Homo sapiens: one gene and its partner. The protein of the gene in region 1 interacts with the protein of each later gene in a biochemical or structural test. Each region holds a gene or a part of one and is shown on either strand. Other genes may lie near its edges.

The links.
Region 2: the proteins of CHRDL2 (region 1) and INHBA form a complex in vitro, tested with the Homo sapiens proteins (one study listed by BioGRID).

What each region holds. Positions count from the first base shown.
Region 1 is NC_000011.10:74,721,281-74,728,556, reverse strand, and holds part of CHRDL2 (chordin-like protein 2 isoform 2 precursor), read left to right. Parts: intron 1-7,276. UniProt on the Homo sapiens protein: May inhibit BMPs activity by blocking their interaction with their receptors. Has a negative regulator effect on the cartilage formation/regeneration from immature mesenchymal cells, by preventing or reducing the rate of matrix accumulation.
Region 2 is NC_000007.14:41,685,861-41,693,136, reverse strand, and holds part of INHBA (inhibin beta A chain preproprotein), read left to right. Parts: intron 1-2,594; coding exon 2,595-3,487; 3' UTR 3,488-7,276. UniProt on the Homo sapiens protein: Inhibins/activins are involved in regulating a number of diverse functions such as hypothalamic and pituitary hormone secretion, gonadal hormone secretion, germ cell development and maturation, erythroid differentiation, insulin secretion, nerve cell survival, embryonic axial development or bone growth, depending on their subunit composition.

The DNA of each region.
Region 1 (7,276 bases):
TAAAAAACAACAACAACAACAACAACAAAAAACAGAACAGACCTGGGTCCTGGACCCTGATTTGTCACTTATTGGCTGTGTGAGTTGGGACAGACCACTTCTTTATCTGAGCCTCATTTTGTTTGGTGCTGACAGCCTATGAATCTAGAAAGGATCCTATAGTCATTTGCCAAGATGCTATTTGAAGGTCTCTTACAAAGGTCCTCATCTTAGTTTAAGTGAGATCTCAAGCCTGTTGTGGGTCAGAAATCTGGTGATATCTTAGGTGCTTTCAGAAACAGTGCTAACGGATGGAAATGTTCAAGTCTGTGTGGTATCAGGCTCCTGAGGTGTCGGAGCCCTGAAGAATGCCAAGGGCCTGTGAACACAGGTAACAGTTTGCTCCTCAGGCTATTCAAACAAAAAGTATTCTCTCTTTGGTTCTATTTCCAGCCATAGATTGAGCCCTAATCCCAATACAGACTAAGTTGCAATTCCAGCCACAAGCCAAGCCCTAGTCCTCCAACCTTGGCCACAGGTTGAACACCAATTCCACCCCTATACAAGACCCCTTACCCAGGCTGGGTCCCTGACCTGGTTACTGACCAGTACTGGTCCCAGCCCCAGGCTGAGCCACAGACATGTGTGATGCTGGTCACTCTAGACACTCGGCTCTTTGTGGATGAGTGTCCACCAGAGGCCTACTATCTTCTTACCTCCCTCTTCAGTGCTTTCTGCCCTACTCCTCTCAGCTCCTCTCTTTGGTTCTCTTCCCTAATTGTCCCTTGTAGGTGTCTAGTATGCTCTGCTTTCTCTTCCCTCCCTCCATCCAATCCTGCTTTCAGGAGAGTCAGTTACCAAGTAAAAACATGGGGCTGGGTGCAGTGGCTCACGCCTGTAATCTCAGCACTTTGAAAGGCCGAGGTGGATGGATTACTTGAGCCCAGGAGTTTGAGACCAGCCTGAGAAACATAGCAAGACCCTGTCTCTAGAAAAAATAAAGAAATTAGCCTGGCATGGTGGCACATATCTGTGGTCCCAGCTATTCGGCAGGCTGAGGTGGAAGGATTGCTTGAGCCCAGAAGATGGGGGCTGCAGTGAGCTGTGATTGCACCACTGCACTCCAACCTGGGTATCACAGTGAGACCCTGCTGAGAAAAAAACAATCCATGTATTTTTTTTCTTCAAGGGTTTTGTTTATTATGGGAATCGAAGCTTTCGTTCCCAGGTGATGAATTCCGGACCCTAGACGCAGGCATGGGACAGGAAGGGAGCTCCGCTGGTAGGATGTGATGTGGAGGGCAAACCTGGAATCAGAAAGTCATGGATCCAGCCCTGGCTGTGCCATCAATTCCAACTGTGACCCTGGACAGGTTGCCTTTCTCTACCTCTCAGTTTTCTCCCCTGTAAAGTGAGATGGTTGGACTCAAGTGGATGATTATTGAGGACCATTCTAGTTTTAACACTTCGTAATTCTAAGTCTCCAAAACCCAAAGGTGTGGTTGCCTTGATTCCGAGTCCACTCTGGCCTTTGGAATAGGGATGTGGGAGGGTGGTACTCCTGCCCTGCCAGGGAGGAGTGGACAGGCAGACCCTCAGACACCAGAAAAAAGTGCCTGGATGGCCTGGGGCAGTGAAGGTAGTGGGAGACCGGCCAGAGGGGACCTGCTTGTCTGTCCAGCTTAGTCGCATCCCCATCTACCTGTGCAGGTGTGCATGAGGCAGTGGGGAGCACCTAAGTGAAGGCCTGAAGTCCGGCTCCAGGCTGACTTCTCTCTGGATCTCTGACTGGGCCGTTCTGCACCTCTCCTCTCCCACCAGCAGAGGTCTCTGCCTCACTCACTGGCGCACAGGCTGCTGAGCCTGAGCCCGGCAACAGCTGCGCAGTTGCTCCAGCTGTTGCACCTGTTCCAGGACTGGCCTCTCAAGTTCCCCCAGCCGCCAACCATGGCGCCGGACTCTGGGAGAGGGACCTTGAATCCTTCATATTCTCAAAGAAAAGGACTGGCATGACAGCGGTGCCCCTGGGAGGTGTAGTACAGAGATCATTTCAGGCGTCCCCCTTCCTCTGTCCAGGACCCCATCCTCATTCTTGTACTCAGGAGTTCTTTTTTGTGTCTCGCCAGAAGCCTTCTGTTTACAAATTAAGGCCATTTCTTCTAGTCCTGCCTAGTAGGGGATGGGTGTCCCTGTAAGCATTCTCTCCACATCTGACGACTGGCATTGAAGATTGTGCTGGAGTGAATCAAGCTTAGTCAAGTCCTGATCTCTCTCTGGGACTCAATTTCCCACAAAGGAAACAGGGGACTGGATGTCTCTGAGTCCCTAGCTTTCTACGATTCTATGAATCTAAGCATATATGTCCAAGGCAGAAAAAAATGTGAACAGTCCCCACCCTGTTTCCTGCCCTTTAACAGGTAACAGAGCTGCCTTTCCTGGTTTGATAGTTCTCTCCCTAGAGGCCCTTCTATGTTCCTGTATGTCTGTCATGTGCCAGAGGGAAAAGTCAGGTTCAGAGAAATGCAGTTCCTTTCTCCGGGTTGCACAGCTCAGCCACTGAGGAGCTGAGGCTTTTCTTCTGATTTCCTTAAGAGGCCTCTCCCACCGGGTGCCAGAGCCCAGAGCAGAGCTTATGTCTCAGAGGGGAGCAAGTTTGTTTGTGTGAAGAGGGGATTATAAATAAATAGAGAAAGTATGGCTGTGTGGGTGTGAGGGAAGAGATGTAAACGTTCTACATTCCTGGGCAGCCTGGCTCACTCAGGTTTCCTGAGTTCTTGCAGCCTGGGGACAGGCCAGCCACAATTCCAGACCTCTCTCCTCTCACCCCGGCCCCTCCTGATGCCCTTTCCAAGGTCTTGACCAGCCTCCCCTCCAGCCCAGAAGCTTCTTTCTAGTTGTCTTTTCTGCTTCCTATTGGGGAAGAATTCTCAACCGCACTAACCCCTTCTAACTGACCACCATAAAAAAACCTTTTATCACAGCATGAGAGTTTCAAGCCAGACTGTGGGATGAGCTTGGAACTTGGATAGAGACAGTTTGGAAATTTTGACTTATGCGTGAAGATCATGGAATCACTCATCCCCTTAGCTACTCTGGGCTCCTGACCTTTTTGTACATGTTGTCATTTGGTTTGGCCAGTGGTTTGAGCATTCAGATGGCAGGGAGCTGGAAAGTGGGGGTTGTCAGAAGCTAATTTCTGTTAGGTGGCAAGGTAAAAGTGCTGAAAGGGAATTGGCCCTCTTCCCATATAATGAACTACTCCTTTTGTTAAAGAAAGAGGCTTCCAGGGCTGGGCGTGGTGGCTCCCGCCTGTAATCCCAGCCCTTTGGGAGGCCCTGGCGGGTGGATCACGAGGTCAAGAGATCGAGATCATCTTGGCCAACATGGTGAAACCCCATCTCTACTAAAAATACAAAAATTAGCTGGGCGTGGTGGCACTCACCTGTAGTCCCAGCTACTCGGAGGCTGAGGCAGGAGAATCGCTTGAACCTGGGAGGCGGAGGTTGCAGTGAGCAGAGATTGCGCCACTGCACCACAGCCTGGTGACAGAGCAAGATTCCATCTCAAAAAAAAAAAAAGAATGAAAGAAGCTTCCAGGACTAAGGACCGTCAATTGGCTCCTCTTCCAGAATCTCTCCCTCTTTGTTAACTCTGTTCTTTCATCATTGATTTCGTTCATCAGGCACGAACTCTATGTAGGCTCTACCTTGAGCACAAAATTTAATGAGATCTGGTCCTTGCTCTCAAGAAGGTCCCAGTTTGGTTAGGAAGCAAAGCTTACTTAAGAAGTACCTCTAATCCATTTGTGATGAGAATTGTAATGAGGGCTGAACTCAGTTCTGCAGGAAAGGCCAGTGGCTGGAAGTTTGGGGCAGCTTCACAGAAAGGGTAGCATCTAAGCTGGCTTTTGAAGAATGGGAAGGAGTTGGTCAAACATTGGAGATGGAGGATTCCATTCCAGGTGGAGGAAACAGCATGTTTGAAGGCACAGTAGGAGGAGGCCTGGGGGCTGGTGGAAGAGTGAGGAATTTAGCAAGAGGAGGTGAGGCTGAAAACAGGGCCACCACAAAAAGTTTTGCTGGAAAAGCAGGCAGGAGCCACCTCATGATAGGCTGGGGATGACACAGTGACATTTGGAATCTGTCTGGTAAACATTGCTGTCCTGAAATCAGATTAGATCAACTAAGTCCAGTCACTTTAAGTCTGTTCAGACAGGTAAAGAGATTTGGCTGTGGCCCATCCAAGTGGACACTTCCTGTGGGAAAGGGAGCTAGTGTCTAGCACTTTGGATATGCCAAAGAGAAGCCTCTGTGTCCTTCATGAACCACATCCACTCCCACCTCTGTGCCTTTGCATCTAGCACCCACTGCCTGAGAAGTCCTTCCCCTTCTGCATCTTGTTAATTTCTCCAAGATCCAGCTCAGGCATGTTCCTAGAGAAGCCTCGCCTGAAGACCCTATGCTCACGCCATCATAGCGTTTGTCAGACTGAATGTATTGTATCTATCTGTGTTCTTCACTAGGCTGTGAGCTCCTTCAGGAGGTGACTTTGTTTTAAGTCATGTACCAGGCCCATGAATGTGTATAATATTTGACATACAAAAAGTTCAATAAATAAATGAATAATGGGAAGTAATATTACTGTAGCAGTCCCCCAGTATTCATGGTTTCAATTTCTGAGGTCTCAGTTTCCTGTGATTAACCTTGGTCCAAAATGTTAAATTGGAAATTCCAGAAATAAAGAATTCATACGTTTTAAATTGCACATCATTCTGAGTGGCATGGTGAATTCTGTTGCCATCCCTCTCTGTCCCATCCAGAATGTAAATCACCCCTTTGTCCAGTGTGCCCACGCTGTAGATGCTCCCCGCCCGTTAATCACTTGGTAGCTGTCTCAGTGATCAGATCAACTGTTGCAGTATTGCAAGGCTTGTGTTCAAGGAACCCTTATTTTACTTCATAATGGCACCAAAGCACGAGTAGCAGTGCCAGCAATTTGGATATGCCAAAGAGAAGCCATAAAGTGCTTTCTTTAAGTAAAAAGGTAAAAGTTCTCAATTAATAAGGAAAGGAAAAAAATGGTATAGTGAGTTTGCTAAGATCTACAGTAAGGATGAATCTTCTATTTGTGAAATTGTAAAGAAGGCAAAAGAAATCTATGCATGGTCTATGTAGGGTTCAGTACAAACTGTGGTTTCAGGCATCCACTGGGGGTCTTGGAATGTATCACCCAAGGATGAGGGGGGACTACTGTATTACTAATGATAATAATGTTTACTGCCTGTTATGCCAAGTGCCGCACACTCACGTATGTGTTCAGTCCCGAAACCTCAATCCTGACCTTGATGGCTCCTTTGCCTTCTCCACCCATATCCTATCCAGTCTGTCCCAAAGCCTGCCCATTGTACCTCCTAAGTGTTTCTCAAATCTGTACTTTTGCCCATCAGCACAGCTTCCATCTTGGTCCAGGTCCAGCATGATCTCAAAACAGGATGACTGCAACAGCCCCTCCCTGGTCTCCCTGCCTCCAGTCTTGCCCTCCAATCAGTTCTCCATTCCTGTGAGCACAGTGATGATTCTAAAATGCAAATCTGATCATGGAACTCCCCAGTTTAAAGCTTTTCCATGGCTTTCCTTTGCCTCTCAGGCTCTCAAAGACCTCCGTGAGCCTCTGCTTCTCCTTCCAGACTGGTCTCTTGCCTCTCACTCCTGCCTTCCCATTCTCTCCTCCAACTTCTGAGCCACTTTCATCTCTGTATCCCCGCCCAAGGTCTGTGGGCCTGAGGTGAGTTGAGGCAAACTAATCTGATTTATGAGTGGGGCTAGAAGAATGCAGGAGGCCACCAGAATCATGATTGGTGCAGTAGTAAATGAGACCTGGGAGATTTGGCCTCAGTGTGTGCTATGATGTTCATCCCCTAATAGGTGCCTGGGGATGACCACAGAGAGCTCTGGGAGTCAAAGAAACACCACAGGAAACAAACTATTAAGGAAGTCTGGGGTCAGTGCCCAGATCTGTTTTTTTTTAAACCTATTTAGTTGAGCATATAATATATGTCAGGCACTAGGCATATTACATATATTATCTGACCTAATTCTACAGTAACTCTGAGAGGTAAAGATTGTTATTAGTTCCATTTAATAGATGTGGAAACAGAGGCCCAGAATGGTTAGGTAACTTGTCTAAATTCAGGCTGCAAATAAAAGCCAAATCCACAATTTGAACCCCAGCCGATCTGACTCCAAAGGGTCCCTGAGAAAAGTCATGCTTGGTCTCTGAGATGGGGAGGGATGCATGGGCACAGGTGGGATGAGACTTGGTGGTGGGGTGGGAGAGGAATCAGGGCAGGTCCAAGGCCAGGGCAGAGGTGGGAACGCCACAGAGGACCAAAGGGAGTGTATGGGAAGGGAGTGAGGTATGAGACAAACTCTACCTCCTTCACACTCAGGTGACACACCTGTGTCACTCAGGACTGGTCCTACTGGCTCCCTGAACTTCATCCTAACCCACTTTGGAGCCTCTGAGAGCCTAAGATGTATGAGACCATCAACACATCCAAGAATCATAGAATCTTGGAATGATCGAATCTTAGAACCACAACATTGGACAATTCTAGAAGCTTTGTGTTCTAAGGAAAGACAGGTTCTTAGAAACATGGAATTCTCAAAATCCTGAACCTTAGAATCCTAGAATTTTGGAGTCTTCAAATGTTGAAATCATGGATTCATAAAGTATCTATGCAGAAAATCTTTGAAGATCATAGCTTACCCCCTCCCCTTATTTTGCAGATGGGAAACTGAGGCTCAGAGAAAGGAGGATGAGTCTCTGAATGTCACACAGTGAACTTGTGGCTTAAAGAACTAAAACTGTTTTCACCAGCCATGTTCAAGGGTTGGGGCTAGTGCCAGCACTGCAGGAACTGAGGCGGCCTGTCGCCGTCTGGCAGTTCTTCCTCCTGCTTGGTTCTGGCATGGCCTTGGGCACTCATCTCACTTGAGGAAGAGAGAGCTCCAGGCCATGCCACCCTTCCTTGTGCCTGTCACCTTCTAGGGTATGGTGGGGTGGGGATTGTGGCCACTGGAGGCCTCCTGCCAGGCCCCCCACATTCTCAGCCTCTGCCAGGTCTGTTGGTGGGGGGAAGGGGCCTCCTGCCTGGGCATTGGCTGAGACACTCTTTCTGTCTTCATGCTCTGAGCAGGCGGTGAGGTGAAGGGGGTGCCAACTGGCACAGAGACCTGGGCTACAGGGCTGCCCCAAGGAAGGGAGGACAGGGCTTCTTCAGCAACAGGCTGAGACC
Region 2 (7,276 bases), on another chromosome or scaffold:
CTGTTTTTGGAGTGACACCCTGTGCAGTTTAGGATTTCAGAAGCTGTCCTGCATAGAGGCAGAAGGGAAAACAGCAGGTATCTTGTTAACATTCTCTATGGGGCAAGGCAGATGTGCCCAAGCTGGAGGAAACCTGCACACCCTCCAGGCTAGTTATCCAAGGCTTGGGAGGTTTCCCTCGGCCTTCTCCTAAGGCCTTGGCAGGACCCTGCCACCCTAAAATCAACTGCTGATTGCCTTTTTAGATTTAAATGATTAAGCTCTGCTTATGGGAATCTTCTTCTCTTTTATTTTGTTAAGAAACAAACAACAACAACAAAACCCACACCAATTCTTAGCAAAGGGGAATATCGAATTCAGATTTTGAAAAAATAAGTCATCATGCTTCCTAAAATAAGACAGCTTCTCCCTCTAACTGCTCTCTCTGCTCTGGTATTCTATCTAATCATAAACCCAGCTTTATTATTCATTTCAACTCCTGCCAAAGACATGAGGTCGGAGTCAGAGGAACTCCCCTTACCACCGCCACCATCATCATGGCCAGCATCCTCGTAAGTTTATAGAAAGATGCCAGAGAACCTTTCCTATCCATCTGCAGCCCTGCTTGGCCCTTGCCTCAGTGAATTTACCACTATCATAATCACAGTGTGCAGAGTGTGTTAAATTAAGAACAGAATCCACAGTACGCAATGCACAGAAAAGCCTGCCTTCTGCTGCAGAGAACTTGAAACTGTGCCTAAAATTTATAGTACCGTAAACATCTCAGGGCCTCGAGTGATAAGTATGGCTGGATTTCCGTTAACTATAGAAATCCAGGCAGGGAGATCCTCCCAGGGAGTTGCAAGTTCTAAGATGAACTTCTTGAAGATTGTTCCCAGATTTGTGCATGGGATACATGTACAGCAGACAGTTGTAAGGAGGTCCACGGTCATGGAAAAGAGGATATGTTTCTATATGCCACCAAGTGGGAAAAATGGAAGTGAGGGAAAATATTTGATTAATCAAAAAATTTTAGTTTGGATACCTGCTTTCATAGTAATTGTTGCTGTGTCATTAAACATACAGTTGCTTAGGAAAAGAGAAGGAAATAGGTGACTTTCTAATTTTAGAGTTAGGCTGGAACTGAGTGGTTGCTAAATTCAACTGCCCTGACAATGTGGGGATTTCCTGTCCATTAGCAGCGATTGCTATTTGACATATGTTTCTGGTGCCCATTAATCTGCCCTGTAATGGGTCAGAGGCAAAAATGGGGGATTCAGAGGTACTAGGTGGCTCTCTTAATTTAATAGAACTCAATGCTAAGGACGCCTCTATTTGTTAATAAGTAATCAAGTCATTGGCTACTTTCTGCTAAACACTAGACTATGATAGTGACCTTAGACCCCGGGCATTCTAAACCAGGCTGGCAGGAGGGTGGTGGTGGAGGTGATGTGAGGTAAGCCTCCTAGAGGAACTGTCATCCAAACAATCTGAAAATTGAAACATTATTAAAGGCAGCACTAAGGGTGGTATGTTGGAGTTGGGGCAGGAGCACTTAAGGCAGAAGGAACAGCAGGTGTCACTGCCTGCAGTTGAGAAAGGGGGTGGAATTCTCAAGGCCTTAGACCCCAGAGAACAGGACTGGGCAAGAGCTGACATTCAAGGGAGGAACAGCATGTACAGAGCCCAAAGTCCCAGCCACTTTCTGTTGGATACTGAGCAATAGGAATTCAGTAAAGGACTTTCAAGAAGAAGTGATGTGATCAGATCCACCTGTGGGAAAGATGCCTTTAGCTGCTTCATGGAGAAATGACTGGAGAGGAGGCCTTCCTTAGTGTTGCAGAGGCAAAGTAAAGAAAATGCTGCTGCAGTGACCCAGCAAAGAGGTGATGGCGGAGGAATCAGGCTGTGACAAGGGAAGAAGAGGCTGGCTCAAGTGTGTCTCGACTGCACAGACTTACACAGCGAGGTGGGGCCAGGGGCTGCATTTTTGTCTGAGAATAGTATTTCCTTAGCTTTCTAGAGCTTACAGTGTCTTTTTGTTTATGTTATCTCATTTGACCTTCCTAAACCTGTGAGATAACAGGTCAAATGTCCTTATGTCATTCCCATTTTTATAGAAGATGAAACTGAGGTTGAGCAATTAGTCAACAGACACAGACTCGCAGGCCCTCTTCATTCTAAAGCAAGGGTCCAAAACCTTTTTTCTATAAAGGGCCAGAGAGTAAATAATTTAGGCTTTGTGAGCCAGGCAGTCTGTTGCAGCTACGCAGTCCTTGGTTATTATAGTGCAAAAACAGCCATAGGCAGCATGTACAGAAATGAGCATAACCATGCTCCAACAAAACTTTATTTACAGGCACTAATGTTTAAATTTCAGGTAATTTTCACATGTCACAAAATATCACTTTTCTTTAACCACTTAAAAGTATAAAAGCCATTCTTAGTTTGCAGGCAGTACAGAAACAGTTTCAGCCCATGGGCTGTCATTTGTTGACCCCTATTCAAGAGGGTCTGTCACAGAAGACTCCTGCTTGCCTGAAATTTACGAGTGCATGTAAATGTTGGAATTAACAGGTGTGCCTGTTTTCTCTTATGCTGTCTTTCATCTTCAGGAACAGCCAGGAAGACGCTGCACTTCGAGATTTCCAAGGAAGGCAGTGACCTGTCAGTGGTGGAGCGTGCAGAAGTCTGGCTCTTCCTAAAAGTCCCCAAGGCCAACAGGACCAGGACCAAAGTCACCATCCGCCTCTTCCAGCAGCAGAAGCACCCGCAGGGCAGCTTGGACACAGGGGAAGAGGCCGAGGAAGTGGGCTTAAAGGGGGAGAGGAGTGAACTGTTGCTCTCTGAAAAAGTAGTAGACGCTCGGAAGAGCACCTGGCATGTCTTCCCTGTCTCCAGCAGCATCCAGCGGTTGCTGGACCAGGGCAAGAGCTCCCTGGACGTTCGGATTGCCTGTGAGCAGTGCCAGGAGAGTGGCGCCAGCTTGGTTCTCCTGGGCAAGAAGAAGAAGAAAGAAGAGGAGGGGGAAGGGAAAAAGAAGGGCGGAGGTGAAGGTGGGGCAGGAGCAGATGAGGAAAAGGAGCAGTCGCACAGACCTTTCCTCATGCTGCAGGCCCGGCAGTCTGAAGACCACCCTCATCGCCGGCGTCGGCGGGGCTTGGAGTGTGATGGCAAGGTCAACATCTGCTGTAAGAAACAGTTCTTTGTCAGTTTCAAGGACATCGGCTGGAATGACTGGATCATTGCTCCCTCTGGCTATCATGCCAACTACTGCGAGGGTGAGTGCCCGAGCCATATAGCAGGCACGTCCGGGTCCTCACTGTCCTTCCACTCAACAGTCATCAACCACTACCGCATGCGGGGCCATAGCCCCTTTGCCAACCTCAAATCGTGCTGTGTGCCCACCAAGCTGAGACCCATGTCCATGTTGTACTATGATGATGGTCAAAACATCATCAAAAAGGACATTCAGAACATGATCGTGGAGGAGTGTGGGTGCTCATAGAGTTGCCCAGCCCAGGGGGAAAGGGAGCAAGAGTTGTCCAGAGAAGACAGTGGCAAAATGAAGAAATTTTTAAGGTTTCTGAGTTAACCAGAAAAATAGAAATTAAAAACAAAACAAAAAAAAAAACAAAAAAAAACAAAAGTAAATTAAAAACAAAACCTGATGAAACAGATGAAGGAAGATGTGGAAAAAATCCTTAGCCAGGGCTCAGAGATGAAGCAGTGAAAGAGACAGGAATTGGGAGGGAAAGGGAGAATGGTGTACCCTTTATTTCTTCTGAAATCACACTGATGACATCAGTTGTTTAAACGGGGTATTGTCCTTTCCCCCCTTGAGGTTCCCTTGTGAGCCTTGAATCAACCAATCTAGTCTGCAGTAGTGTGGACTAGAACAACCCAAATAGCATCTAGAAAGCCATGAGTTTGAAAGGGCCCATCACAGGCACTTTCCTACCCAATTACCCAGGTCATAAGGTATGTCTGTGTGACACTTATCTCTGTGTATATCAGCATACACACACACACACACACACACACACACACACACAGGCATTTCCACACATTACATATATACACATACTGGTAAAAGAACAATCGTGTGCAGGTGGTCACACTTCCTTTTTCTGTACCACTTTTGCAACAAAACAAAACAAACAACATTAAAAAATTGAGAACAAGTATGGAAAGAATGAAAGATCAAGGAAAAAAGAATACCAAGTTACATTTCGTTAAGGTGCTTATGATCTTAGAACTATGCAACCTAATAGGTTTGAAACTGTTTACCTGAGAGAGAACAAAAAGAGAGACTTTTTTGTATTGGAAGTAATCTGATTAATTTTTATTTTCTTCAAGGAGAGATACTTGAAAGGAATATGTTTGTCCATCTGTTGGATCCAAACATTTCTATATTTTGTAAATGTTGTTGTTGTTTTTTTTTTAATCGTTTACTATTTGCACTACAATGGTGTTTGACCTGTCTAATCCTTATTTAACAAGTATTTTCTTTGGTTGGGGGTGGGGGTGGGGTTTAAGAGCTGCACTTAATGTGAGCTATAAAAGAACTGCTACAGCACACAAAATAGCTATTTTTATTATTATAATTATAATTATTATTATTATTTTGTACCTTAAAAAATAGACACATACACCAAAGACATTTGTGTGAGCCTTTAAACAGTCTGTCTGTGGTTGGTATCATTCACCATCAATGAGTCAGGGGTTGGGATTCAAGGTTGAGTAGTGTGGATTGTGTTCAGGCTTAAAAGACCTGAGAAGTTTGGTTTTTGACTCCTTTTACATCCATGAAACAGGACATTTCATACTGGATGTACAGTAGTTGTACACTGTTGGATATCAAGTTCAATCAAATTCATGGAACTACATGCTTGTATGTGTATATATACATTGCTTGTGCATATGCATATCTGTATGTATATATACATGTATTGTACCATGTCCATACACATTTTAAGCACTTCAGGCTGTCATTTTTTAATGTTCTTAAAGCAATGAATGTTTGTGTGCAAAACACAGTATTTTTAAGAAGGATAGGCTATAGTTTTTGCTTTTACTCTGAACTAGGTGGGCGCATTTCAAAAATTCGGATGGGAAAAAGCCTGGAAATTCCAGTGAATATTCAGCAAGGCCCTCTTTCATTGTACAGGGATCAAATTTCCTCCTCTTTTTTGTGCCCCCTCCCACTTCTACAAGTTATCCCCTGTGGGGAAAACAGGATGATAATCAAAACTCTGGGCTGATGTTTTTCCAACTTAGTGTCTATTGGAATCAATCTTAAATCAGAAGCTTTTTCAGAAAAATAATATTTAGGCCAGAATTAGAGTTGAGTGTATTTTTTAAAAATGATTAAGGCTTGGTTGTGAGAAATATTACCTGTACCAGCTGGGAAAAATAATGTCATCACTAACTAAAAGATAATTAATTTGAGAGAAAGTGTTAAGAGAGGGAGAGTAAGGAAGAGAACAGTTAAGAGGAGGCAGAGGTGAGGGCAGTAGTAAAAATCTCTAAAATTTTAATTTACAGCCAAAATTCTTCATGTGTAAATTTGTATTGATTCAGATGCAGAAATGAAAAAAAAACACCTTTGTTTTATAAATATCAAAGTACATGCTTAAAGCCAAGTTTTTATCTAGTTTATTCTAGTACTTAGCTTGCCTGGAATAGCTAATAAATTATTCATGTATGTGCTTTTGAAAATCCAGAGCCCTATTTTTACACACTTGTGTGAAGTTGGCAAACATTTTGAAAAATGGAAAAAAGTTTCTAATAATTGGGAACAATTACATTAATTAATATTTTGTAAAATATTGAAGCTTTTAGCCCTATGTCAATTTGTAGATTAAAATAAATTAATTATAGGAAAGGAAGATAACAGTGAGAAACCAAACATTACAAAAGGTGGTTTAGCTCTCCTTGAAAAATATACTAAGTTGGTATACTATAACACTTGGCTATATGTAGGCAATGTCACTACTGGGCAAATACACTTACTGTGTTCTAGAGGCAGCCCTTTCTTATGCAGAAAATACAATACGCACTGCATGAGAAGCTTGAGAGTGGATTCTAATCCAGGTCTGTCGACCTTGGATATCATGCATGTGGGAAGGTGGGTGTGGTGAGAAAAGTTTTAAGGCAAGAGTAGATGGCCATGTTCAACTTTACAAAATTTCTTGGAAAACTGGCAGTATTTTGAACTGCATCTTCTTTGGTACCGGAACCTGCAGAAACAGTGTGAGAAATTAAGTCCTGGTTCACTGCGCAGTAGCAAAGATGGTCAAGGCCATGGAAAAAGCAGAAATTTACCAAGAAAGCTGATACCCATGTATAGTTCCCACTCATCTCAAATACATCTGCTATCTTTTTAAGCTAAGTCCTAGACATATCGGGGATAACATGGGGGTTGATTAGTGACCACAGTTATCAGAAGCAGAGAAATGTAATTCCATATTTTATTTGAAACTTATTCCATATTTTAATTGGATATTGAGTGATTGGGTTATCAAACACCCACAAACTTTAATTTTGTTAAATTTATATGGCTTTGAAATAGAAGTATAAGTTGCTACCATTTTTTGATAACATTGAAAGATAGTATTTTACCATCTTTAATCATCTTGGAAAATACAAGTCCTGTGAACAACCACTCTTTCACCTAGCAGCATGAGGCCAAAAGTAAAGGCTTTAAATTATAACATATGGGATTCTTAGTAGTATGTTTTTTTCTTGAAACTCAGTGGCTCTATCTAACCTTACTATCTCCTCACTCTTTCTCTAAGACTAAACTCTAGGCTCTTAAAAATCTGCCCACACCAATCTTAGAAGCTCTGAAAAGAATTTGTCTTTAAATATCTTTTAATAGTAACATGTATTTTATGGACCAAATTGACATTTTCGACTATTTTTTCCAAAAAAGTCAGGTGAATTTCAGCACACTGAGTTGGGAATTTCTTATCCCAGAAGACCAACCAATTTCATATTTATTTAAGATTGATTCCATACTCCGTTTTCAAGGAGAATCCCTGCAGTCTCCTTAAAGGTAGAACAAATACTTTCTATTTTTTTTTCACCATTGTGGGATTGGACTTTAAGAGGTGACTCTAAAAAAACAGAGAACAAATATGTCTCAGTTGTATTAAGCACGGACCCATATTATCATATTCACTTAAAAAAATGATTTCCTGTGCACCTTTTGGCAACTTCTCTTTTCAATGTAGGGAAAAACTTAGTCACCCTGAAAACCCACAAAATAAATAAAACTTGTAGATGTGGGCAG